2 linked regions of the Homo sapiens genome follow. The protein of the gene in region 1 interacts with the protein of each later gene in a biochemical or structural test. Each region holds a gene or a part of one and is shown on either strand. Other genes may lie near its edges.

Region 1 (8,111 bases):
CACCTGCCTCGGCCTCCCAAAGTACTAGGGTTACAGGTGTGAGCCACCATGCCCGCCCTTGGTCAGATTTTTAACTGACTCACTGCACAGCTGATTGGAAGCTCTGTTTGAGTGGGCAGGTTTTGTCAGCTTGTGAGCATATTTTTAGATTCACTGGTTAGTCAGCCAGCTCAACTCCTAGATTCACTACAATTTTAGATTTACTAGGATTTTAGATTCACTGGGTAGTCAGTTCCCCAAGTCCTGAGCTCAAGCGATGCACCTGCCTTGGCCTCCCACAGTGCTGGGATTACAGGCATGAGCCACCATGCCTGGCCCAGAATTCTTGATAGTGAACTTTGTTCTTATCCGAAGTTAACATCTAAAGGGATGTAACTGGCAATTAAAACATTCCAGATAATAGGGGTTTTGTTTGCAAGGGGAATTATAATCACTTCTAAAACTTGGTGAATTTTCTTTCAATAGAATCAAATGAACTCTCCCATAAGGTTATTAATAGTTTTCAAGGGAAATAAAAAATCAGTAACCTGTAGTTCTAGGTACTCAGGATGCTAAGGCAGGAGGATCACTTTAGCCCAGAAATTTGAGACCAGCCTAGGCAACGTAACGAAACCCCATTTCTTTAAAAAGAAAAAAGTAGATCATTTAGCAATATTTGCATTGGAAAATTTCTAAATAGGAACAGATTCAAAATTGTTTGTAGGCTGGGCGCGGTGGCTCACGCCTGTAATCCCAGCACTTTGGGGGGCCGAGGCGGGCGGATCATGAGGTCAGGAGATCGAGACCATCCTGGCTAACAGGGTGAAACCCCGTCTCTACTAAAAATAAAAAATTAGCCGGGCGTGCGGGCGCCTGTAGTCCCAGCTACTTGGGAGGCTGAGGCAGGAGAATGGTGTGAACCTGGGAGGCGGAGCTTGCAGTGAGCCAAGATCCTGCCACTGCACTCCAGCCTAGGCGACAGAGTGAGACTCCGTCTCAAAAAAAAAATAAAATTGTTTGTAAAGCCTCTTTTGAAGAGAAATAGTGTGCCAGTTTATAAAGGCACACATAAGACTGTACAACCTAATGAAGCCAAGGCAGTCTTTGGAGATTAGTACAGAGTTTTGTTATCTTGCTCATCTAATAAATTTTATGCTTTTTAGTGGCGAGTAAGAAAAGAAGCTATGATGGGTCTGGCTCAGCTTTATAAGAAATACTGTCTTCATGGTGAAGCAGGAAAGGAAGCTGCAGAGAAAGTCAGCTGGATAAAGGACAAACTTCTGCATATTTATTATCAGAACAGCATTGACGACAAGTGAGTTTAATATGTTGGTAGAATGGTTGAGTGTAAAACTACTTTTTACTTAAAAAATGTCTATTTAATATTTTAGTAATTTCTTATTTTTATGTATTTACTTCATAAATAAAATTAAGTTTATTCAACTTGATTAATCATTTATTTCTAAGTTTAGAGATAGCTTTTTACATATTTTTATGTACTGTGTTTAAACAAGACTGTCCACGATTATAAGGTAGCCTTATAATATGAAATAGGCATGAACTTTGGAGTTAGAGACCAAATGTTCACTCTGCCCTTTATTAGATGTGTATTCTTACATAGGTTCATTAAGGTCTTGTGCGCTTCAGTTTTATATAAAAAGGAAAAATAATAGTGCCTTTCCCACAGGATTATCATGTAGATTAAATAAAATAATGAATATAAAGCATCCTAGCCCAATGTGTGGCAAGAGAGCACTATTGAGTTAACTGCTAGTTACTTTCCTTTTTACACCACTACCAATAGAGGAATTACTAAGTTGTTTTCATTTTCTGAATATTACTTATAATTCTATATTGGATCGTACAAATGATACTTGGTGTGTGCAGAATAGTTTCCATTGTTTTGTTTAATTAAACTAACTTCTCTGGCATCACTGGATATGTATTTCATTTGTTAATTAAGAGATCTTGTATATTCTTAATCCAGTGATATTAAATAATAGAAGCAAGAAGATACAAGCAATAGGTACTAGCAAGAAGGATATTCCAATATTGGTAAGGAATTTAGATCATGGAGAGAACAATAATCAGATGTACACAGGAAAAACTACATTTTCTGGAAGTAATATGAAGGGGGGTCCCCCTGTTTTTAACTATGTGACAACATGGAAAATGGGCTGAACTGTAATCAGAGGAAATTAATGAGTTTCTTGAGAATTAGCTCTACCGCGGATCATAGCTTTATATGTTGCGTTAATGAATTTGCTTTTGTTCTAGACTGCTGAAGAAGAATAGGCGGAACAGCCTAGCACCCTGTGTTTAGGAATAACATTTAAACCTTCTAGAACAAATGTTTCATACTGACAAATTATAAAGCCACAGACAGTAACCGTGTCTCTAAAGTTAAACTGTACTGAAAGCTTTCCAAGAAGGAAGTCATTATAAACTGATATCTTCCATTGTATGTGCACACATAGCTATTATCTTGATATGGTATCCTGGCATAAGATGGTTAAAACTTAAAATGTTGGCTGGGTGTGGTGCCTCATGCCCGTCGTAATCCCAGCACTTCAGGACGCTAAGGCAGGCGGATTGCCTGAGCTCAGGAGTTCCAGATCAGCCTTGGCAACATAGGGACACCTTGTCTCTACAAAAAATATAAAAATTAGCTGGGCATGGTGGCACGCGCCTGTAGTCCTAGCTACTGGAGAGGCTGAGGTGGGAGAATCGCTTGAACCTGCGAGACAGAGGTTGCATTGAGCCGAGTTTGCACCACTGTACTCCAGCCTGGGTGACAGAGCAAGACCCTGTCTCCAAAAAAAAAAAAAAAAATTGCTTCTTAAAAATGGAATAATTGTGTCACTTAGGTTTTTTTTGTTGTTGTTATTTCCTAGACTGTTGGTAGAGAAAATCTTTGCTCAGTATCTTGTCCCCCACAACCTGGAAACAGAAGAGAGAATGAAATGCTTATATTACTTATATGCTAGTTTGGATCCAAATGCTGTAAAGTAAGTTACTTTTCAAATAACTGCTGTATTTTCTAAGGATTTCGTAAAATTACTTCATCTTATCTAATTAGTTGTTATTGATTGGATTGTTGCTGCTTCTATAGTTGAATCAAGAACCTCAGGTAAATATTTATAGACAAAATGTTACGATTTATGTTCAGGTTATTCTTATATGTGTAGGCTTGTTTGGCAGCCAGGTCAGTAGTAGGATGGTTTCAGGTGTTCAAATAAATGACCACGTCAAAATACCTGTGGCTAGTGTCTAAAACTACTGGTGCTTTATCCTTCCAGACTAAATATTAAGCCTAATAACTGAATACTGATTCTTTGTTGGGTGAACATATTCAGATCTTCTCTGTGTAAGATGGCCATATGATTAATGGTCCAACTGGATTATTTTCAGACTGAAAGGGATCACTATTGATATTTTTACTTAAATAGCATAATCAAACTGTCCCAGGCCAACCAGGATGTGTGGTCATTTCACTTTAATAGATTTTTTTTTTAAAGTAAATGTTACAATATATACATATATTATGTTGTACACCATCGTATATGTAATTTTTGTCAAAAATACACAAAGTAAATGAGTGATGTCATTAAGAATTCTGATCTGAAGATGGAAGGATCTTTTCAGCCTAGAAGCTTGACCATCCTGGGCAATGTAGTGAGATTCTGTCTTAAAAAAGAGAGAGAATTTTGAGTTAGGAATTTGACTGTTTGCCATTGTGGCTTCTTCAAGTGTTCCTGCATTATTAGATTAAGACTGCATTTTTAGGCCGGACGTGGAGGCTAACCCCTGTAATCCCAGCATTTTGGGAGGCCAGGGCAGGCAGATAATTTGAGGTTAGGAGTTCGAGACCAGCCTGGCCAACATGGTGAAACCCCATCTCTACTAAAAATACAAAAATATTAGTTGGGCATGGTGGTGCACGCCTGTAATCCCAGCTACTAGGGAGGCTGAGGCCGGAGAATTGCTTGAACCCAGGAGGCAGATGTTGCAGTGAGCCGAGATTATCCCATTGTACTGCAGCCTGGGCAACAGAGTGAGACTTGTCTCAAAAAAAAAAAAAAAAAAAAGAAAGAAAAGAAAAAAAGACTGTCATTTTGGCAGAAATTCTATTACGATAGTGTTGTATCATGGTTACTAATCCCTTTCCTTGCTTAAGGTTTTGATGTTTGTTTACATTTCAAAATATCTGACAAAGAGTGTTTAGAGATTAGTAATTCTCAGAGGTCATCTGGGCACCTGGAAATATGGATGGGATTTCTGAGAGAAGAAAATCTGTGTTCCTGGAGAGAGAAAAGTTTAGAATAAACACAATAATGTAAATTTGGCATCTTGAATCTGCATCATTTTTGATACTTCATTTTTCAAAATAGTCTATAGTGCTTCATGTATATGCCTTAGCCTTTTTAATAAGGCCTTCATGATTTGATCTGTGTCTGTGGAATGCTCCAGCTTCCTTATGCTCCACACACATGCCTTGTGCTCCAAGCGTATACATGTTTTTCAGTTTGTTTTATGTCCCTTGCACTTTGAGATTTTCTTTCCTTGTACCAAAACTTTCTAGCTACCTGTATTTAGTACATCTTTCAATCCCTGTATTACTTATTAATCTTTCTAAACCTCTCAAATATTTTCTCTCATAAGAAGGCTTATATTTACCATTTGTACTAAATTGTTTTAAATCCTAATAAATATATTTCCCGGTATTTAAACTTTTAGGTAGATGTAGAAGAATGGTGTATATACAGCATGCAACAAGAAAGGTTGTAAAGCTGAATAATTTCCAGTATTGTTATGTAATGTGTGTTTTCATATTCATAACTTTACAGAGCTCTCAACGAAATGTGGAAGTGTCAGAACATGCTTCGGAGCCATGTACGCGAACTATTGGATTTGCACAAGCAGCCTACAGTAGGTTCATGATTTGTTTAAATTCATAGTTTATTATAGTCACTGTTCAGATTTTCTGTAGTTCTACGTAATGAAGCAGGGAAAAAGTATCTCAGTTGTTTTATTTTCCAAATGTCAGTTAAATATAATTTCTGTAGTTGTCCAAGCTAAATTTCCATTTAAAATAAATATAACAAACTCTTATTTTCTAGTGTGAGCAAAGAAATGGTGTTTTCTAGTTTATATAAAGTTTTCAGACACTAAGAGTTTATAGTTAATCAATTTTCAAATAATTAGAATTAAATTTTGAGATAAAATTACATTAAACATCATATTTCTTTTTCACTGCATGATTCATGGTCTCTCAGTGTAGAGTGAATATCAGATATCAATCCTATAAATATGCCAATGGCAAACTAAAAAAGAAATGCCATTAAATTTTTGCAAGGTTGGGGAAAAAAACTTTACATTTTTACGTGTGTTCACTAGAATAGGTGTTCTTAACCAGGGGACCATATAAACAGACCCCTCAAGGACACATGGATGCTGGAACAGGGGCGGGCAAACTTTTTTTTTTTTTTTTTTTTTTTTTTTTAATACACAGGATCTTACTCTGTTGCCCAGGCTGTCGCATAGTGGCATGATCACAGCTCACTGCAGCCTCGATGTCACTGGGCTGAGGTGATCCTCCCACCTCAGCCTTCTGAATAGCTGGGACTACGGGTGTGCTCCACCATACCCAGCTAGGTTTTGTATGTTTTTTGTAGAGGTGAGTTTTCACCATGTTTCCCAGGCTGGTCTCAAAATCTTGGGCTCATGCAGTCTGCCTGCCTAGGCCTCCCAAATTGCTAGGATTACAGGTGTGAGATACTGCACCTAGCCTAGCAAACTTTGAAAATAAATCAACAGATAGCAAAAACATATTTTGCAAGGCATAGAGTCTGTGGTCAGATATTCAACCCTGCCTTTGCAAAATTAGTCATACACGATAAATAAATGAATGGACATGACTATATTCCATCGAAACTACTAACAAAAACAGGTAGCTCATGGGGGCATAGTTTTCTAACTTTTGAACTAAATTATTCAAATTTAGTATAAATGAAAACTAATAAGTAATGTTTTATGGGATACAGGAAAGGGAAGTACGTTTTAGAAAGGAGGTTTTCCTGAAGGTATTTAAGTAACGGGCCACAAAGTAGCTAACAGAACTCTATTGCAGAAAAAAAAGTTTCTTCTCTATATTTTTAGTTAATTTTTTGTGGCATGTAGTTTCATAGTAATTCTGATATGATAAGTTTATATGTTGATTGCTTCATTGATCTTTTTTCAATCTTCTGGCAATGTAACTTTCCTGTGAAAGTTATATACTTGTGGGTTTTTAAGTACCTTCCTCCCAACATCTCCTTTCCTTCTATTTGTCTTAATAGTTGCTACTATGTAATTCTTTGTTGTTAGTTTAGCGTATATATGTGGTAAAACCATTTTCCATTGAGCAGACTGTGATGAACTTTATTTTTTAACGTCATGAAAAATGTACAGTAATGAGTATTGATTTTTGTTAGGGAAATTTGTTAACACATATGACTAGTTGTTCTTTTGTTTCTGTTTTAAATTTCAGTCAGAGGCTAACTGTTCTGCCATGTTTGGAAAACTGATGACCATAGCAAGTGAGTATGTTTATTTACTCACTAAACATGTAGTAAACGTAAATGCAGACAAAGTATTTACCCAGTGGGACTACTGATTTAATGTTAAGTAAAAGAAAATAATCTTTATCTTAATTTTGTTTCTAAGAACCAGCTAGGCTGATTTTCTTTTAGTGGCTCCGCAATATTTTGATGGCACCTGTTTTTAGCTTAGTAGAATAGTTTTTTTTTTTTCCTTCTCTAATATTGATTCTCTTTTAATTTTATAGAGAATTTGCCTGACCCCGGGAAAGCACAAGATTTTGTGAAGAAATTTAACCAGGTTCTCGGCGATGATGAGAAACTTCGGTCTCAGTTGGAGTTATTAATTAGCCCAACCTGTTCTTGCAAACAAGCAGATATTTGTGTGGTTAGTAAATCATACTTCACACTTTTTCTCTAGCTTTACTTACAGAAATATGTATTTTATTAAAGCCTGTTTTACATACAGTGATTTGTGTAAATGTAACAATATTGTGAGCTCTGAATTACTTTGGAGTATATCTATTGTCAAGTTAATTCTCTATTTACCATTCACTCTCAGCCACATTCCAGGAAAATAACTAAAGAACTAAGCCAGGGAGATTGGTCTTAGGAATTTTACAAGATAAAGTACTTTGAACTTAGTAGACATTCATTGAGTAATGATAAGTATTTTCTGAATGCTTGTGTACATGTGCATTTTCTTCTTTCATGTATTAGAATGGAAATAATCGTCAATAAATTAGTAGTAGTAACATTGCCATATATCTGGTTTCATTTACAGATAAAGTAAATTCCTATCTAGACTTTTGTCTTCATTCTTCTCTTGAACTCATTTAAAACCAATATTCTTAAAGCTATCAGGAGGGAAAACTTATGCATTCATTTATTCAGCTTTTTTTTTTTTTTTCCTGAGATAGTCTTGCTTTTGTCACCCAGGCTGGAGTTCAGTGGCACAATCATAGTTCACTACAGCGTTAAAGTCCTGTGCTCATGTGATCCTATACCCCAGCCTTCTGAATAGCTAGAACTATTGGCACACGCATCCACACCCAGCTAAGTTTTTAAATTTTTTGGAGGCCATGCACATTGGCTCACACCTGTAATCCCAGCACCTTGGGAGTCCAAGGCGTGTGGATCACCTGAGGTTGGGAGTTCGAGACCAGCCTAGCCAACTTGGTGAAACCCCATCTCTACTAAAAATACAGAAATTTGCCAGGTGTGGTGGTACATGCCTGTAATCTGAGCTACTCAAGAGGCTGAGACAGGAGAATTGCTTGAACTCGGGAGGTGGAGGTTGTAGTGAGCCGAGATCATGCCACTGCACACCAGCCTGAGTGACAGAATGAGACTGTCTCAAGAAAAGGAAAAAATAAAAATTTTTGTCTCTGTGTTGCCCAGGGTGGTCTCAAACTCCTTCAAGTGATTATCTCACCTCACTGCAACCTCCACCTCCTGGGTTCAGACGATTCTTGTGCCTCAGCCTTCCGAGTAGCTGAGATTACAGGCATGAGCCATCACATCTGGCTAATTTTTTGTATTATTAGTAGAGGT
Region 2 (7,645 bases), on another chromosome or scaffold:
ATTTTTGGAAATTAGGATGCATTGTAAAGGCCATGGGGGATCCACTGCCCTTAAAAATCACACTGTAATGTCTAAGTTCACTGTTAACTGCATAACAAAGCAAACGAATTCTCTTTTTTGTTTGTTTTTAAGAGATGAGGTCTCACTAGGTTTCCCAAAATGGATCTGAACTCCTGAGCTCAAGAGATCCTCCCTTAGTCTCCAGAGTAGCTAGGACTTACGAATGCACACCACCTTGCCCAGCAACAAACTAACTTCTTTTTTTTTTTTTGAGACAGAGTCTCGCTCTGTCTCCCAGGCTGGAGTGCAGTGGCACAACCTCAGATCACTACAACCTCCACCTCCCGGGTTCAAGCAATTCTCCTGCCTCAGCCTCCCAAGTAGCTGGGATTACAGGTGCCTGCCACCACACCCAGCTAATTTTTTGTATTTTTAGTAGAGTCAGGATTTTACCATGTTGGCCAGGCTGATCTCAAACTCCTGACCTGAGATGATCTGCCCACTTTGGCCTCCCAAAGTGCTGGGATTACAGGCATGAGCCACCGCGCCCAGCCCAGAAGATGCAGTATTAAATTAATTATCACCTAATCTGTATTTAGAACATAATTTCTTTAACAAAAATATAGTAAGGCCATCTCAAAATACTACTAATGCTAATAATTAGCAATGATGGTTACTTTCTTCTAATTTTGGAAAATGTTAAACCTAATAACTTTTGTTATGTTTATCATTATGCAAAAGCATCAAAGGCAAGGAAAATGAAGAAATTATTCCTTATCACAATGAGGCCATGTTCCAGATTCAACACTGGACAAAAACGTTTCTAAAAAATTAGGGCTGCATTTCCAAACCAGTTTTTTTCCATTCATTAGTATCAAATAATATTAAAAGATTCTTCTCAGTGCTTTCTGATTATAGAGAAAATTATGCTTACAAAATTCTGTATCAATATACTACATTAGCTAAGATAACAAAATACAATTTTAAAAGTATAAAATGACACATTAAGAAAAAATGTTTTCACGTTTTCATGATAAAATAAGTATTAAGCAAAAGCTTCTGGCCATAAGCACTACAAATTTAGCAAATAAAATGAACTCAATCTATAATTAGGATATATTTATAGAATATTCAGTGAAGATATTTTTGATAGCCAAATAGACTAGTAGTTTTCAACATAAGGCTTCTCAATCTCAGAAACTTAAAAAATACCTGATGGTGCTGGGAATCATCCAAGGTTTTAAAGACCATTGCTACCATCCCATGTGCTCTCAGGTGCATTCGAAAACTGGGCATGGCACATTTAGTAGCCAAGCTAATAACACTACAAGAAAATAGAGCAGGTTAGGGGGGCTGGAAACAGCTAGTACATTAGTTTTGAGTTTGTGTAATACCAAAACCAGCAAATAGGAAGGGGGTAAAAGGGTCAAAGCATTGCCCATACATGATCACAATATAAAAACCATAGGCAAAACACATTATTAAAAATATACTGATGCCTAGTGCATGATTAGGTACACTGTATTTTAAAAAAATAACGTAATTGTCTTTAGTGCATTCCTTACGTTACTACTACCACCATTAAAAGCTTAAAATCTGAGCTGCCTTTCATTAATACTTCTGATAAAAATCACAATTAATTAATTATATTTGATTGGATATACTCCAAATGACTGAAAAATTTAATCAAAATTATAGTATTCAATCAATCCATTAGGAAATACAAAAGATCATCTTTTTGAGCATTTGGGTACAAATGTAAGCGTCCAGATCACAATATGCTTAAATAAATCTAACTTATTACTTGAACATCAGAGGTAAAAAGAACTTAAAAGATTTTTTTTTAATTATTTACTTTATTTCTTTCTGGTAATTTTTTCTTTCTTGTTTTTGGAGACAGGGCCTCACCTCACTCTATCATCCAGGCTGGAGTGCAGCAGCATGATCACGGGCTCAAGCCATCCTGCCACCTCAGCCTCCCAAGTAGCTGGAACTACAGGCATATGCCACCATGACTCATTAATTTTTTATTTTTTGTAGACATGGGGTCTCACTATGTTGCCCAAGGTGGTCTCGAACTCTTGGACACACATGATCCTCCCAACTTGGCTTCCCAAAATGCTGGGATTATAGGTATGAGCCACCACACAAGGCAAAAAGATGCTTTAGCGTAATTTTTTTTTTTTTTTAAGCTCTTGAAAACTGAAGCCTATGCTATATTAAAAAGGCTCTCATCACCCAGCTTTCCCTCTTATCATGCAGAATCAAATTCTTTATAAAGAAATGGATAGCATTTTAACATATCACTGGCTATACATACTACCCCATCATAACAAAATAAAAAATGTTTGGCTTTTTGGACAACACCTAGTTGAAAAAATTTAATACAGCATGCACATAATTGTAAAATATAAAAATAAGATCTTACCTAAGGCAACGTGTGTTTAGAGGCTGAGTGCTCTTTAAGCCACTTAACAAGTACTCAATGTCATCAGTGAACTCTTGATTTTCACCAAATTCTACAACATCGTTGAAGTGCTTCACGTGCTGAACAACAGTATATAACTGCCAAGAAAAAAAAAGTTCACCCCTTTTTAACTAGGAACTAGCATATTTAAATCTATGGGCTCACTGTACTTTACATAAGTGCATAAAATAGTTCATTAGATGGCAACAAAAATATTTTTAGAACAAGGATGATGGTAGGACAAAAGAAGTTTGTGGTTCAAAACTGAGTATCAGTATACTGATATTTGTTGAAGATATTAAATGGCTAAATGTTACATACAAAAATCTATCAACATGCAGTAAACACTGTATATGGCTGCTTACTTCTTTGTCTTCTCGTCTGCATTTCAGTGCAGTAACTATATCTTGGTAGGGCTGAGTAGGTATTGTCACAGTTTTTATCACTTTGGATGGTGGTGCAGGAGCCTTAAAAACTCCATCATCTTTTTGATTTGGTTCCTTTGAAGACAGCCTCACCTATTAATAAAGGTATTAAATTAGTTGTTCTAAATAAATATATAAAAATAGGAACGTCTCATCTATCTGGCAAATTCAGCTTCAAAAAAAAGTAAATAAAGCTTTTTAAAAAGCAGGGAGCAGGGAGGCCTCTCAAAGGTCTTTAGAAATACTTTGAATTCCATGCACTAACAGGTAAGACATATGTATATCTGCACACAGAAGAACCACTCAAGGATTTCTTCTGGTCTTTTTTAAACTTTTTATTTCACACAATTTGTCGTTTGTCTCTAGTACCATTAGAAAGACTAAAGAACCACAACTGCATGCAAAAATAGCTTTCATAAGCAGAAAGGGACAGGACAGAAAAACCAGACAGAGTCAAAAGAATTTTAGTAGCACAAGAGTGTGAAGTAGTTTAGGGTAAAAATAAATAGCTATAACAGGAGCATGCTATATTACTACTAATATACAAAATGATTTCTTTATACTATCAAAAGGAGTCTAATCAGTTTAAGAAGACAGGGAACTGTACATTATACTTTAGAAAGACTTCTATCCCCAAATTTCTTATTGTTATAAAGAACTAAGTTACTTGATAACTCCAGATGACTGAAGCTTTACTGTTAACCTAGAAATCATGTATGATATTACCAGTCATTCTGGAGAAAATAAGTTGCTAAGAATCTTTTTCCTAATGTTTTGGATTGAAAAGTATTACTAGAATACAGGAAGAGATTTGTCTCTGAAAAGCAAATTAAGCACTGAAAGCCACTTAGAAATATATATAGGATGTAATACACAACATAGCTCTTATACAAACATCAAATATGGACAATCTTGCTCTTAAACACTAAATACTATAAATTCCATGAAATGTGGGTCATGAGTAACAAGAGCCTTATTTTTTATGGCTTTCATTGTTTAACCTAGCAGCACTAGAATTTCTGCTATCTTACTGACAATCCTCAGTTTTCCAATGAATTAAACTGAAACTAATAAGTTTCAGTAAAGAAAGCCAAAATAAACTGTTAAATAGAAAAGTCAAAGATTTACAAATTATGAATTAAAAGAGTAACTGCTTAATTTATAGCTTATTAAAAAACACAAAATAAATAAGTACAGTTCACTTACTGTGACACTCTGAGGTTTTACTACTGGTGGCCCAGGCAGTTCTTCTGAATCTGGATGATTCCAATGTCTGGCATTATATACAGCTTTTGTGGGTGACTAGAGAAATGAGAGAAAGATCAACTGCTTCCATCCTTATAAAAGACTCTCAACTAAAAATCATAAAGAATAATTTATATGCATAAACATGTCCTAGAAACAGCAGGATGGATACTATCTGGGAACAGTCCCACCATAATTCCCATTCTCATGTCTATGGCAAATATAATCACTGTAGTACTAGGTCACAAAATCAGTAATTAGTGCTCTGTGCAACTATGACTAACCAAGAAAAGATGGCACTTGAAAGTAAACCTAGGCCAGACATGGTGGCTCACACCTGCAATCCCAGCACTTTGGGAGGCCAAGGCGGGTGGATCACTTGAGGTCAGGAGTTTGAGACGAGCCTGGTCAACATAGTGAAACCCCATCTCTACTAAAAATAAAAAAAATTAGCTGGGCATGGTGGCAGGCATCTGTAATCCCAGCTATTTGGGAGGCTGAGGCAGGAGAATCACCTGAATCCGGAGGCAGAGGTTGCAGTGAGCTAAGACTGTGCCACTGCACTCCAGCCTGGGTGACAGAGTGAGACTCCGTCTCAAAAAAAAAAAAAAAAGGTAAACCTCTTGCTAGGCTTACTAAGTAATCAACACATTTAACTCAACATGGGCTGGGCATGATGGCTCATGCCTGTAATCCCAGCACTTTGGGAGAGTGAGGAAGGAGGATCACTTGAGTCCAGGAGTTCAAGACCAACCTGGGTGAGCCCCAGAGTTCAAGACCAACCTGGGTGACAAAGCAAGACTCCGTCTCAAAAAAATTTAAAAAATAGTAATGATGATAATAATAATAGTTCAATGGGTTCTTTGGCAAAACTTTATTCTTCCTACTACCAATTCATGCCTCACAATCTTCCAACAATGGGAATCCAGCAGTTTATGACAGACAATGCGCTCATTTAAAGCAAACCACTGCAGCCAGCTGTGTGCCACCACTCAAGAGTTCTCAAATTTTATCAAGGTAAATATAATACATATACCACATATTCCAAGACACAGTGGGATCCAAAAAAGTACCATGTAATAACATACATGATTTCTGCAGCAAAATGTTACACTAAGCAGGACAAAGATGTAAAGTCCCTCACACATCAATTGAGGTTATTGTGCTGCCCTATCAATTTACTTAAACTTCCAGGGGATTTTCAGTTTTAACACTGAATTTCCGAATTGAGAATAAATGACAGTAAACCTACAAAATCAAATCAAGTAAAAGAACAAAACCCTCACTTTCAAGAGAAAACTGCATAATTACAAAGACAAAATAGAAAGGTAACACCTCATCCTCTCTATCCTCTACAAAAGTGACGTTAAATTATGTTTTGAACTTCAAATACATGGTTTGGACAAATTAGAGATTTTCTCTTATGAAACACATCTTATTTTCAGTACAACAAAAATAAGAAGACAAGTGGAAAATCATACTTCAAGACCGTCAAAAAATCTACATTAAAAAACTTAACTATATCCCCTTACTAGCTGCACTGAAGCAACATAATTAGCATTAAGCATTAGTGTGAACTAATCGTTAGCTTTTAATATATTATCTCTAATAAAGTGGAAAAATTCTCATTTGGATTGTGTACACAAACCCATCATTCATAAATGCCAGGTTTGCATAACATGATGATGCATTAGCAATCTGAAACAATTTATGCACTCATGCAATGACTTGATCTGGCTTCCTGAGACACAACACATAAAGTGGACTGAACATAAATTTTAAAACCAACCTCTCTATTCCTTCCATTCTTTTCAAAGACCAGCTATGTAACTTGTGTGTCTGCTAGTTATGGATCCCTAATTTGAACTACCTTTAGTACCTCAAGCATACTCAGAGCCCAGGCTCTGGTAACAACAGCCTTTTGGCAAGAATGAGTGCCTCAAAGCTCAAGCATTTTACTTCTTTTTAAAAAGCATTGATTGGGCTAGGCACAGTGGCTCATGCCAGTAATTGCAGCACGCCTCTAGGCCGAGGCAGGAAGCAGATCACTTGAAGCCAGGAGTTCACAACAGCCTGGGCAAGAAAGCAAGATCCTGTCTCTACAAAAAATAAAATTAAAGAAATTAAAGAAGCAAAAAGAGAAATTATTTTTAAAAAGCACTGACTAGGCCGGGCACGGTGGCTTACGCCTGTAATCCCAGCACTTTGGGAGGCTGAGGCGGGCGGATCACGAGGTCAGGAGATTGAGACCATCCTGGTTAACACGGTGAAACCCCGTCTCTACTAAAAATACAAAAAATTAGCGGGGCACGGTGGTGGGCACCTGCAGTCCCAGCTACTTGGGAGGCTGAGGGAGGAGAATTGCTAGAACCCGGGAGTCGGAGGTTGCAGTGATCTGAGATGGTGCCATTGCACTTCAGCCTGGGCGACAGAGCGAGACTCTGTCTCAAAAAATTAAAACACTGTAAGAGTGCCTGAAAGAATATGTGCTGTCGGGTGTGGTGGCTCACGCCTGTAATCCCAGCACTTTGGGAGGCCAAGGCAGGCGGATCGACTGAGGTCAGGAGTTTGAGACCAGCCTGGCCAACAGGATGAAACCCCGTCTCTACTAAAAATACAAAAATTAGCCAGGCATGGTGGTGAGTAACTGCAGTACCAGCTACTCAGGAGGCTGAGGCGGGAGAATCAGTTGAACCCGGGAGGTGGAGGTTGCAGTGAGCCGAGATTGCGCCACTGCACTCCAGCCTGGGCGACAAAGCGAGACTGTCTTTAAAAAAAAAAAAAAAAAAGTGCTTTGTAAGTATTAAATGTTATTATTAATTGTTATGTGATGATGTGCTGCTAGGTTTAAGTCTAACACATTCGTAAGAAAACAGAAATATATAGCCTACCTACCTAATAAAGAATATGATAAACAAATGGAATAACTGATGTGTCTATTCATCTCAAAAGTCCTTGAAGCATAACAGCATACAGAATAATTGAACAATTTATATTAAAAGGTCATATTAAAGGAACTTTTGGTTATGCTGTTGAACAAGGCAATTTAGTAATACTATTAGTTTTAAAGCTTTTGATGATGTTTTACCATTTTAATACTAATAAGCAATCTAAAGGGAAGTAGTCCAATTAGAACTTTTTCTTGACTTTTATTTCAGTGTCTTACAAGATTAATATAGGGTTTATTATGGGAGGAGAGATATTGAAGACACATCTAATTAAAAATTAAAATAAGTAATATCTGTATATGGCTAACATACACATATGGCAGGGAGAGGAAGAAACAGGGAAAGAGAGAAAAGGGAACACTGACTGAGCTCTTTACATCATTCCAAAACAGTACAGTAATTCCACATGCTCCTAAGTGAACTGTGTATGTAAAGCACAAAACAGTGGTATGTCACAGGCTAATTTCACTCAGTGGAAGTGATTGTGTGTACAATATATGTAAAAGTATCATACAGCAATCAACTTTCCATGGAAAATCAAAAATCACCCTTACCATTTA

What was found.
Region 2: the proteins of PDS5A (region 1) and WAPL form a complex in vitro, tested with the Homo sapiens proteins (one study listed by BioGRID).

The regions. Positions count from the first base shown.
Region 1 is NC_000004.12:39,897,223-39,905,333, reverse strand, and holds part of PDS5A (sister chromatid cohesion protein PDS5 homolog A), read left to right. Parts: intron 1-1,142; coding exon 1,143-1,294; intron 1,295-2,873; coding exon 2,874-2,987; intron 2,988-4,826; coding exon 4,827-4,908; intron 4,909-6,508; coding exon 6,509-6,557; intron 6,558-6,805; coding exon 6,806-6,945; coding exon of another isoform or gene 6,946-6,978; exon of another isoform or gene 6,979-7,320; intron 7,321-8,111. UniProt on the Homo sapiens protein: Probable regulator of sister chromatid cohesion in mitosis which may stabilize cohesin complex association with chromatin. May couple sister chromatid cohesion during mitosis to DNA replication.
Region 2 is NC_000010.11:86,469,780-86,477,424, forward strand, and holds part of WAPL (wings apart-like protein homolog), read right to left. Parts: intron 4,195-7,645; coding exon 4,099-4,194; intron 2,986-4,098; coding exon 2,833-2,985; intron 2,566-2,832; coding exon 2,429-2,565; intron 1,325-2,428; coding exon 1,213-1,324; intron 1-1,212. UniProt on the Homo sapiens protein: Regulator of sister chromatid cohesion in mitosis which negatively regulates cohesin association with chromatin. Involved in both sister chromatid cohesion during interphase and sister-chromatid resolution during early stages of mitosis.